Homo sapiens: one gene and its partners. The protein of the gene in region 3 purifies or fractionates together with the protein of the main gene of each other region. This does not show direct contact. Each region holds a gene or a part of one and is shown on either strand. Other genes may lie near its edges. The genes, in order: DAPP1, RNASEH1 and SERPINF2.

Region 1 (3,645 bases), on a different chromosome or scaffold from region 3:
TTTGTTTGTTTGTTTGTTTGTTTGTTTTGAGACAGAGTCTCACTCTGTTGCCAGGCTGGAGTACAGTGGCGCCATCTCGGCTCACTGCAACCTCTGACTCCCTGGTTCAAGCGATTCTCCTGTCTCAGCCTCCCGAGTAGCTGGGATTACAGGCATGCGCCACCATGCCCGGCTAATTTTTGTATTTGTAGTAGAGACGGGGTTTCATCATGTTGGCCAGGATGGTCTTGATCTCCTGACCTCATGATCCGCCCCCTCGGCCTCCAAAAGTGCTGGGATTACAGGCATGAGCCACCGCGCCCGGCTGATAAGTTTCTTTTGATTGGAAATGACAGAAACCAGCTCTGGCTAGCTGGGTTTTTTTGGTCTTGTTTTTGATTTTGTTTTTAAGTGAGTAGGGTACAAGAACAGGGAACAGGAGCAGAATTTTTTTTTTTTTTTGTGATGGGGTCTCACTCTGTTGCCCAGGCTGGAGTGCAGTGGCACGATCTCGGCTCACTGCAACCTCCGCCTCCCGGGTTAAAGGGATTCTCCTGCTTCAGCCTCCCAAGTAGCTGGGACTACAGACGCATGCCACCACGCCTGGCTAATTTTTGTATTTTTTTTAGTAAAGACGGGGTTTCACCGTGTTAGCCAGGATGGTCTCCATCTCCTGACCTTGTGATCCGTATGCCTCGGCCTCCCAAAGTGCTGGGATTACAGGCATGGGCCACCGCGCCCTGCCCAGGAGCAGAATTTTTTAAAAGGATATTAACAATATACCCTCCCAGAATTTAAGGGCAAGTTGAACAACCAAGAGACAACAAGGAATCTGCTTAGTAATCATGGCAAGTCTGAGGCTTTCAGTCAATTGATGTGTCTGTCTTGATTCATCTCTGATCGTCTCAGAAGTGTACCTCCGCTCAGCCTTTCTGAAACCAGGTTTCATGTCAAAGGCAGGAAACAATAGTCTACTTCATGTAGTTCAGAAATTGAGTTGGTGGACCTTCTCTCTAGAGAAGCAATTAAGTGGATCCCCAAGAAGTGAATCCAATTAGTGTGACCAGGTCAGGTATTCGAGGGCCGGGCCAGGTCTGGAGGTATAACATGGTTATAGGGAACCTATCTCTGTATACTGGGAGGTACAATCTCTGCAGAAGGGGAAATCATTAAGCCTCACAGCCATGCCAAGAAGTCTGTATATTGGCTCTTCCTTGGGCAAGAATAGTCATCTAAGGAGAACTGTCTTTTAGGACACCAGATTTTTATCAGTATAAGTTGCCGTTTTATAAGTACTTTGTCATCTTCATCTCACAATTTAGTTTAGCCTCATTTGTGGGGTTACTAGTTAAAATCAATCTACAGTCAGTTTTACTCTCTTGGTTGACTCAATGCCATTTTCCTTTGTTTTACTTTTGTTGAATTAAACTTTAGAGGAGGTTTTCAAAATAGAATTTGGGTTCCTCCAACAGAGATTTGAAAAGTTATGCCTGCGGTTATTGTCCTTTCTTGCCTCAGGCCTGGAGAATTGTGGACCTGGGAGGCTGGTTCATCCCAGGTTCTTTCTTGGTTCAAGCCTGCATTACTGTAGCATTCATTCATTAATTCATTCACTCATCTGCCTTCATTATGTCAGAAACTCTATCAAGTGGTAGGGATACAAAGATAAATTTGACTGATAGGTGCGCTGAAGAGGCTCACAGAGGTTGGAAATGCACACGTTGGAAAGGCAGTGGCTGTCTAATACCAAGAGGTGACAGCACTGCAGGCTCAGGCAGCAGCCCAGCCCAGAGATCCTTACCCTGCAGCGCAACTGGCCCCGGTGGCTATTTCTCCTCCAGGGACTGATACTGTGGTAGGAGGATAATGCCCCCACAGGACGTCCACATGTCTCCCTGGACCTGTGAATATATTGTTACATGGCAAGAGGGAATTAAGTTTGCAGATGGAATTAAGGCAGCTGATCAAATAACTTTGGGGTGGGGAGATTATCCTAGATGGTCTAAGTAAGACCACTGTAATTGACAGGGTCCTCATAAGTAGTAGGGAGCCAGAAGGGAGAGAACCAGAAAGATGGCAGCAGGAGAAGGATCTGACTGGCTGTTACTGGCTTTGAAGACAGAGGAAAATGGCCACAAGTCAAGACATGAGGGCACCTCTGAAAGCTGGAAAATGCAAAGGAATGAATCCTCCCTAGAGCCTCCACTAGGAAAGCAGCCTTGCCAGTTTTAGACTAGTGAGACCCATTTCGAACTTCTGACTTCCAGAATTGTAAGATGATAAATCTGAGTTGTTTTAAGCTGTTATGTTTGTGGCAATTTGCTACAATAGCAATAAAAAATTAGGCCAGGCACAGTGGCTCACGCCTGTAATCCCAACACTTTGGGAGGCCGAGGCGGGTGGATCACCTGAGGTCACGAGTTCGAGACCAGTCTGGCCAACATGACGAAACCCCGTCTCTACTGAAAATACGAAAATTGGCCCGGTGTGGTGGTGGATGCCTGTATTCCCAGCTACTTGGGAGGCAGAGGCAGGAGAATCGCTTGAACCTGGGAGGCAGACGTTGCAGTGAGCTGAGATCGTGACATTGCACTCCAGCCTGGGTGACAGAGCAAGACTCCGCCTCAAAAAAAAAAAATTAACACAGGTATTATTATGTGAAGTGTGTGCCTGGTCGTATCAACTAAGTACATCTTTCTGGAGTGTCATTTAAAGCATTATTTTCATATTAAGTATTAAATATATGAAGTAGAATGAAAATTAAGCATCAACTTTGAAGATAAAGTATAAGAGTTCAAAATGTATCTAATTTGGGAGCTGCTTTGATCCCTAGGCTTCAGTTCCCCTCTCCTCTTCTGTAAGGTGAAAGTGTTTGAGAGGCACCAATTTAACTATAGTTAATCACAAGTAGTGATTACTAGACTACCACCATTTTTATTCCTAGCAGAATGTTGCGTCTAGGTCTTTTTTAAGATTTCAAAATCCATGTCCCCAAAGATGCAATCATTCAAATTTTATTTAAGGATTTAAAAATATTCTGTCAAAGAATAATAATATCTAATATGTTATCATTCTCCCACAAACATTTATTTGGTGCCTTCTGAAGGAAGCATAATTATTCTCACTAGTAAGGAGCAGAAGCTTGTAATGGTTGTCCAAGGCCGATAAGTACTGAATGGCGGTAGTGACAATTGAACCCTGTTCCTCTGCCTGTGCATCCAGTGCTCTTTCCAAGGGTCCAGAGTGACTATGAAGCACATCACTGGGAGTGTTTCTTAGGGTTGGGAGCCAGCGCTGAATTTACCATGCATCTACAATGTGAGCACTGTGTTCACAGAGCCCCTGAGCCTGCACAGCAGCTACTCTTGATATAGGTACTGCTGCTTTCATTCTGACTGTAAAACTGTAGCCGGCCCCTTCTCCTCATATGACTGGATCTGTTCTTATGGGAAGATCACATTGACAAAAGAGAGCACAATGTGCAAGAATGGGACGGTTCTGATAATGGCAAAATCTGTTTTTCATTGTGATCCCAATGCTGCAATGCCAATGAGAGACAGAAAGAGGAAGGGCCAGAGGCTTTCATTCTTCTCTGAGGTCGAGATCAGACACCCTCTTCTGGCTTTTCTCAACAGCTTTTCATTTTACAGCAGCACCTTATCTGGG
Region 2 (3,645 bases), on a different chromosome or scaffold from region 3:
GTATAAGTCACTTAAGATGGCGTGTTGACTGCTTCTTTGGGAAATGCCCTGAATAGGAGCATGTAGGGGATGCTTACGAGGCTGGGGAAGGCTCCTGGGAGAAATGACATCTTAAGCTGACAGCTGTAGGTAGAATACAAGTTAGGGGAAAGGGAAGAGAGGAGGGTATTTCAGGCTGTGCCAAAGGCCAAAGCAACTAAGGCCAGCTAAGGAAGTGAAGAGTCAAGGATGGTGACTCAGAATACAAGTGGGATCAATTATAAGAGGTAAGACTAAGGAGGTGAAAAAGGCAGGACACTCAAGATTGACTCACCAGTGATCGTGCATTTTTGTAGGTATAACTAACTGGGTTCAAGGTTGGAAGAAAAATGGGTGGAAGACAAGTGCAGGGAAAGAGGTGATCAACAAAGAGGACTTTGTGGCACTGGAGAGGCTTACCCAGGGGATGGACATTCAGTGGGTGAGTATCTTAAATGTTCATGTCCTATGGCCATTATGACCAAATAAGCTAAGTTTACTAGAGATTAATGGTTTATGTAAGTGGTTTAATGACATAACAATTTCCATGATATTAATATCATAATGTATATTACAACGTATTTGAGGCTGGGCGTAGTGGCTCACGCCTATAATCCCAGCACTTTGGGAGGCTGAGGTGGGTGGATCACGAGGTCAGGAGTTCAAGACCAGCCTGGCCAGTATGGTGAAACCCCATCTTTATTAAAAAATACAAAAATTAGCCGGGCATGGTGGTGTGTGCCTGTAGTCCCAGCTACTCAGGAGGCTGAGGCAGGAGAATCACTTGAACCCAGGAGGCGGAAGTTGCAGTGAGCTGAGATCGCGCCACTGCACTCCAGCCTGAGCAACGATATGAGACTCCAAGACCCCGTCTCAAAAAAAAAAAAAAAATATGTGAGCCTGGGCTCAGTGGTTCACATCTGTAACCCAGCACTTTAGGAGGCCCAAATGGCCTGACTACTTAAGCCAAGAAGTTCGAGACCAGCCTGGATAACATGGGGAGACTCTGTTTCTCGAAAAAATAAAAAATTAGCCAGGGGTAGTGGCACATGCCTGTAGTCTAGTTACTCAGGACACTGAGGTGGGAGGATGACTTGAGCTGGGGAGGTCGAGGTTGCAGTGAGCCAAGATTGTACCACTGTACTCTAGCCTGGGCGACAGAGTGAGACCCTGTCTCAGAAAAACAAAACAAACCCACCCACATACACAAATTTGATTATTTTCCTTATCATACAAGTAATACAGTTTTTTGGTTTGGTTTTTGAGACAGGTCTCACTCTGTCACCCCAGGCTATGGCGTGATCTCATTGCAACCTCTGCCTTCTGGGTTCAAGTGATTCTCGTGCCTCAGCCTCCCAAGTATCTGGGATTACAGGCATATGCCACCACGCCTGGCTAATTTTTGTATTTTTAGTAGCGATGGAGTTTTGTCATGTTACCCAGGCTGGTCTTGAACTCTTGATCTCAAACATTCCACCTGCCTTGGCCTCTCAAAGTGCTGGGATTACATTTGTTTTGTGTCACTTCCTATATGTTTTTGTTTTATGACAAAAAGGTTTACAACTAAATCAATAATCATGTCAAACTTTTTTTTATTGTTTTGAGATGGAGTCTCGCACTGTTGCCCAGGCTGGAGTGCAGTGGCGCAATCTCGGCTCGCTGCAACCACAAGTAATACAATTCTAGTGAGAGTGTCACTAGGCATAGAATACACAGGCAGTGTGGTTTGAGGGATGTTCTACAATCCTTATATTTTGTTAAGAACACGAAGTAACACCCAACCTGGGCACATGGCATTACTATGACAGCTGTATGTCACCCTGTTCATTTCTTTGGAATGCATCATAATGTTAAATAAAACTATCAGTGTATTTTGTTTCAAACAATAGTAAGGTTGTATGATTAAAGCCTTGGTAATAGAACTTTTATTCCAAGATGGAAGCACTTTTTAAAATCATAGATCATGTTTATTAAAAAGTTTTTTTCAAGCAATAGAGAACAAATTACACTGCAGCCACTGTCTCAACCCTGCCTTGTTCTGCCTTCCTGGAACCACTGATAATAGTTTGGTAGCCTGATGTGTAAATTTGCTTTGGCAACATAAATGTAAACAGTGGTTAAATAAGTACATTATTTCTGACAGCACTGCAAGGGAAGCGTGTGTGTGTGTTGCATACATATCCGTCCACCCATCTGTACATACATGTGTTTTGCCTGGAAAGCTTATCAAGTCCCATTGATAAGTGGGGAGGAAATAGCAACATGAACGGTAAAATCCAATTTGTGAAAAAACAAAATGGAATGTTCGTAAATCACATCCATTGCGTAAACGCATGAAGAATGGACAGCGTGCTGTTGAGGATCATGTCTGGGGAGAGGAGCGTTGAAGTTGAGCTTATGCTGTGCAGTCTGTTCTGAATGGTTTTTTATGATGACAATATAGTCATGTGTTGCTTATGTAAAGATGAGTAAAAATAAAAGGAAAACATTTATCTTAACAGATGCATGTTCCTGGTCATTCGGGATTTATAGGCAATGAAGAAGCTGACAGATTAGCCAGAGAAGGAGCTAAACAATCGGAAGACTGAGCCATGTGACTTTAGTCCTTGGGAGAACTTGAGCCAGCGGCTGTCTTGCTGCCTGTACTTACTGGTGTGGAAAATAGCCTGCAGGTAGGACCATTGCAGTGATGGGCAGATGCGTCTTTCACACGGAATCAGGCACAGTGGCCTTCTGTGACATGTGTTTATAAAAAATGGTTAAGTATATAATAAATTGAACATCTTTGAGATTGGAGAATTATGTGAGATTTCCACATTATGTTTACTGGGTTCAATACTGTCCTTGCTTGTTTTATTGCAGGCAAGCAAGGCAAATGGCCTAAAATGCTGTGGCTTATATTTTGATAAGAAATCAAAAAACCATTGGTTAAAAGATGCAACTCAGAAGTCTGGAAGTATTCTGAAAGCATCCATTTACCGTCCAGTTGACAGGTTTGAGTCTCCTGCTTGTATAGGTGACTTGTGCCCATGGGTACATTAAAGGAACATGCTGCCCAGGGCCTGGGCGGACAGCTCAGTGGGCAGGATGTGTGCTGGGTCTCAGCCCCATGTGCCTGCTTGCTGGGCAGTTAGTATAGGGCAAAGCCTGCCTGCGGCGACCCTGGCTGCTAGGCCATTCTCTAGGAACAGCTGCGACTCATAAAGACCAAGAAGCATAAATAAACTTTCAAAAATTTATTTGGCTCTTTCGTTAAAAACTGTGCAAATTAAAAAAAAAAAAAAAAAAGTAAGACACCGGCTGGGCACAGTGGCTCACTTCTGTAATCCTAGCACTTTGGGAGGCCAAGGCGGGCAGATCACTTGAGGTCAGGAGTTTGAGACCAGCTTGGCCAACATGACGAAACCCTGTCTCTACTAAAATTACAAAAATTATCCAGGTGTGGTGGCACGGGCTTGTAGTCCCAGCTACTTGGGAGGCTGAGGCACAAGAATCACTTGAACCCAGGCGGCAGAGGTTGCAGTGAGCCAAGATTGCACCACTGCACTCCATCCTGGGCAACAGAGTGAGACTCTGTCTCAAAAAAAAAAAAAAGTAGTAAAAGTTTGACATGATTATTTATTTAGT
Region 3 (4,274 bases):
TGATGCAGGGAGTGAGGAGCTGGACAGTGAGGATGGGAAGGAGCCTGATGCAGGGAGTGAGGAGCAGGACAGTGAGGGTGGGAAGTGGCCTGATGCAGGGAGTGAGGCGCAGGACAGTGAGGGTGGGAAGGAGCCTGATGCAGGGAGTGAGGAGCAGGACAGTGAGGGTGGGAGGCGGCCTGATGCAGGGAGTGAGGAGCCGGACAGTGAGGGTGGGAGGCGGCCTGATGCAGGGAGTGAGGAGCAGGACAGTGAGGGTGGGAAGTGGCCCGATGCAGGGAGTGAGGCGCAGGACAGTGAGGGTGGGAAGGAGCCTGATGCAGGGAGTGAGGAGCCGGACAGTGAGGGTGGGAAGGAGCCTGATGCAGGGAGTGAGGAGCCGGACAGTGAGGGTGGGAAGGAGCCTGATGCAGGGAGTGAGGAGCAGGTGTGAGGGCGGGAAGCGGCCTGATGCAGGGAGTGAGGAGCAGGACAGTGAGGGTGGGAAGGGGCCTGATACAGGGAGTGAGGAGCAGGACAGTGAGGGTGGGAAGGAGCCTGATGCAGGGAGTGAGGAGCCGGACAGTGAGGGTGGGAAGCAGCCTGATCTTTGCACGGGCTGCCAGGCTTCTGGTTCATACAGCCCCAGGTCAGTTTCCAGAACCCTCGCTCTTGGGTAGGGGAAAGAGACATTGCTCTGGAGTGGCAGGACGGTGGGAGAAGTTGAGTCCCTCTCATTTCTCCTCCCTCACCCCCTGCCTTCCATCCCAGTCTGAAGGCAGCCAACCTGATCCTGGGCTTGGAAGGTTGGGGGTGGGCTTCCTATCCTGGGCTCTCTGCATAGGCTCTTGTGGCTTCCCCTTTCCTCCCCTCAGGAGCGGGAGGCAGCTCTCTGGGAGAAGAAAGGACATTGGGAGTGAGAATCTGGATGTGCCTCAGCCCAGCTCTGTGTCCTTGGGCAGGTCACATGGCCTCTCTGAGCCTGGCTGAACCAGGGATAATCCACACCTCGTGGGGTCTCTGGAAGGCTTAACACAGTGCTAGGTTCCTGTGCTTTCTGGATCCGCCCTCTTGGCTAGCCAGATCCAGTCTCTTCAACTCTCTCCTCCTGAACTTTCTCTTTCCAGGCTCGGGGGGGGGGACCCAAATATAGGGGGTTCTGCGTGGCTGCCTCAGGGTTAGATGCCCTGGTGGGAAAGGGGCTTCTGGCTTCAAGATCAATGTTTAACTGGATGTGCAAGTCAATATTTACCAGAAGAGAAAGCAATCTGAACAGGGGTTGGCTGAGAGTAAAGGTCCTGGTGGGAGGGGAGGGGTGGGCTGGGCCAGCTGGAGCCTGGGCAGAGAGTGAGGAGCACCCAAGTGGGGCCAGAGGAACGTTGTGTGTGGCAGCAAGGAGCCCGCAGAGGTATGAGGGGAGGGGCTGCTCGGCCTGCTCCTTGGGTAGGAGAGGAGGAGGGAGCTGCCTCCCTGGCTGAGGGGTCTGGGATTTATTCAGGAGGCCTGTCACTCCCCAGCCTCTTCTGGGACTTGAAAAACTGGAGCCTGTTCTTGGCAAGAAGATTCTAATGCCCAGGTCGGAGTCGGGGCCCTGGCCAAGGGCTCTTGTGTGGGATGGGGGTGGGGCCGGGGGGACCAAAGGATCCTCCAGAAGGGTTGGCCCCAAGATGGGGGTGGGCTGGAGGTAGCTGAGACCTGCTCTGACTTATCCTCCTGAGACCAACACCTGCCCTTCCCAGAGCCAGCCTGGAGCAGAGGCCTGTGATGCTCCTAAGTGCAGAGGTGGCTCTGGCCAGAGTCATTCACTGGGCTCTGCTGCTGGGTCAAAAGGCAGCTCTCTGGCTGCCTTGCCACCCATGGTGAGACCTCAGGGCCTCACAGGTATGTCCAGCCTTGTGGGCAAGACCTGACCAGCCTGAGAAAGACGGGTTGGGGCCAGGCGTGGTGGCTCATGCCTGTCATCCCAGCACTTTGGGAGGCTGAGGCAGGTGGATCACCTGAGGTCAGGAGTTCGAGACCAGCCTGACCAACATGGAGAAACCCTGTCTCTACTAAAAATACAAAATTAGCCAGGCATGGTGGCACATGCCTGTAATCCCAGCTACTCGGGAGGCTGAGGCAGGAGAATCGCTTTAACCCAGGAGGTGGAGGTTGCAGTGAGCCGAGATCGTGCCATTGCACTCCAGCCTGCATGATAAGAATGAAACTCCATCTCAAAAAAAAAAAAAAAAAAAAAAAAGACAGGCTAAATGGATGCAGCAGGCTGGGTAGGAGCTCTGTGTTGGAGCTCTGCGGTGGAGGCTTCAGGGCAGGCTTCCCAGAAGAGGTGGCCTTGAGCCAAGCTGACCCCAGCCATCGGGGGAGTGCCAAGCATTGTACTCAGGGTTTACAAAGATGGTCTTATTTATTTTTTTGAGACAGAGTCTTGCTCTGTCGCCCAGGCTGGAGTGCAGTGGCGTGATCTCGGCTCACTGCAACCTCCGCCTCCCGGGTTCAAGCAGTTCTCTGCCTCAGCCTCCCGAGTAGCTGGGATTACAGGGGCCCACCACCACGCCTGGCTAATTTTGTATTTTCAGTAGAGATGGGGTTTTACCATGTTGGCCAGGCTGGTCTTGAACTCCCGACCTCAGGTGATCCACCTGCCCCTGGCCTCCCAAAGTGCTGGGATTACAGGCTTGAGCCACCGTGCCTGGCCACAAAGATGGTCTTTTGCCGGGTGCAGTGGCTCATGCCTGTAATCCCAGTACTTTGGGAGGCCGAGGCAGGAGGATCACCTGAGGTCGGGAGTTTAAGACCAGCCTGACTAACACAGAGAAACCCCGTTTCTACTAAGAAATACAGAATTAGCCAGGCGTGGTGGTGCATGCCTGTAATCCCAGCTATTCGGGAGGCTGAAGCAGGAGAATCGCTTGAACCTGGGAGGTGGAGGTTGCGGTGAGCCGAGATCCTGCCACTGCACTCCAGCCTGGTCAACGAGAGCGAAACTCCGTCTCAAAAAATAAACAACAAAAAATCCCAAAAAGACGGTCTTATTTTGGTCCTCACCATGCATGTGAGAAGAGTGAGGGACTTGTGCCACCGTTTTACAAGGTAAGGCCAAGCCTGGTGGAGTTACGGGAAATGCCGAGGTCCTTTGGCAAGAGGTAGCCTGGATTCAGACACAGATCTGATTCACAGCGCAGGGCCTTGTAGAATGAGAACGTTTTTGATTTGGTATCTCCCTCCTATTCACCAAAACACCCTCAGTGCATGAAATGCATGAAATATGAAACACCAGAAACTAAAAAGGGGGAGAAGCCAGGGCGGATGTCCCAGCTGCAGGAGTGGGAGCCGCTGCTCGTGTGTTTGGGGTCTGTTCTGATTCTGGAGCCTGCTTCTTCCCCTTGGCAATCATGACCCAGGACTTGGCGTTATCTGTGATCGCGTGGGTAGGATTCCCTGGCGGGCGTGGGGATGTGAGATGGGAACAGAGCTTTCTGTCCCTGCCACAGGAACATGGCGCTGCTCTGGGGGCTCCTGGTGCTCAGCTGGTCCTGCCTGCAAGGCCCCTGCTCCGTGGTGAGGCTGGGCTGAAGTCAAGGTGGGGTGGGGTGGAGGGGGAAGAAGAGGGGCGTTGGCATGGAGGGAGGGCTTGGCTCCGAGGGGACCTCCTATCCTCATCCCTTTCTCCACAGTTCTCCCCTGTGAGCGCCATGGAGCCCTTGGGCCGGCAGGTACTGGGGAGTGAGGAGCCTGTGATGGGGGGAAGGTCCCGGGGGTCTCACTGGTGGCTTGGGCAGGGTGGGGGGCCTGTGGGAAGGGTCGGTCTCCATCTGCTTGCTCCTTTCCGCAGCTAACTAGCGGGCCGAACCAGGAGCAGGTGTCCCCACTTACCCTCCTCAAGTTGGGCAACCAGGTACAACCAGGTGGGGCTGGGGAAGAGTGGGCGGGGCTAGAGGGAGGAGGGCCCATCGGCAGGGGTCGGGGGGTGGGGGCGCGTGCTGAGGCTGAGGCTCTGGAGTCCAGAGGCCAGAAGGGAGAGAGGGTGGGGAGGACCGAAGGTGGGCGCCAGGCCCCAGAATGCCAGTGCCCTCCGTCTGACGCTCCCTCTTCCCTGGGGCTGGGACAAGGCCCTGCTGTCCTCAGGCACAGGGGCTGTGACAAGGCCTTCAACACAGAACCTGGAGCTGACCCCTTGACCTCCCTGACCCCTGATCTGTCCCTGCAGGAGCCTGGTGGCCAGACTGCCCTGAAGAGTCCCCCAGGAGTCTGCAGCAGAGACCCCACCCCAGAGCAGACCCACAGGCTGGCCCGGG

The links.
Region 1: the proteins of SERPINF2 (region 3) and DAPP1 purify together in Homo sapiens (affinity purification with mass spectrometry; one large-scale study listed by BioGRID and IntAct). This does not show direct contact.
Region 2: the proteins of SERPINF2 (region 3) and RNASEH1 purify together in Homo sapiens (affinity purification with mass spectrometry; one large-scale study listed by BioGRID and IntAct). This does not show direct contact.

The regions. Positions count from the first base shown.
Region 1 is NC_000004.12:99,847,805-99,851,449, forward strand, and holds part of DAPP1 (dual adapter for phosphotyrosine and 3-phosphotyrosine and 3-phosphoinositide), read left to right. Parts: intron 1-3,645. UniProt on the Homo sapiens protein: May act as a B-cell-associated adapter that regulates B-cell antigen receptor (BCR)-signaling downstream of PI3K.
Region 2 is NC_000002.12:3,544,746-3,548,390, reverse strand, and holds part of RNASEH1 (ribonuclease H1 isoform 1 precursor), read left to right. Parts: intron 1-335; coding exon 336-460; intron 461-2,499; coding exon of another isoform or gene 2,500-2,519; coding exon 2,520-2,606; 3' UTR 2,607-3,645. UniProt on the Homo sapiens protein: Endonuclease that specifically degrades the RNA of RNA-DNA hybrids.
Region 3 is NC_000017.11:1,741,522-1,745,795, forward strand, and holds the start of SERPINF2 (alpha-2-antiplasmin isoform a precursor), read left to right. Parts: upstream 1-1,349; 5' UTR 1,350-1,387; intron 1,388-1,477; exon of another isoform or gene 1,478-1,547; coding exon of another isoform or gene 1,548-1,555; intron 1,556-2,812; exon of another isoform or gene 2,813-3,025; coding exon of another isoform or gene 3,026-3,069; intron 3,070-3,470; coding exon of another isoform or gene 3,471-3,474; coding exon 3,475-3,537; intron 3,538-3,653; coding exon 3,654-3,692; intron 3,693-3,811; coding exon 3,812-3,874; coding exon of another isoform or gene 3,875-3,884; intron 3,885-4,186; coding exon 4,187-4,274.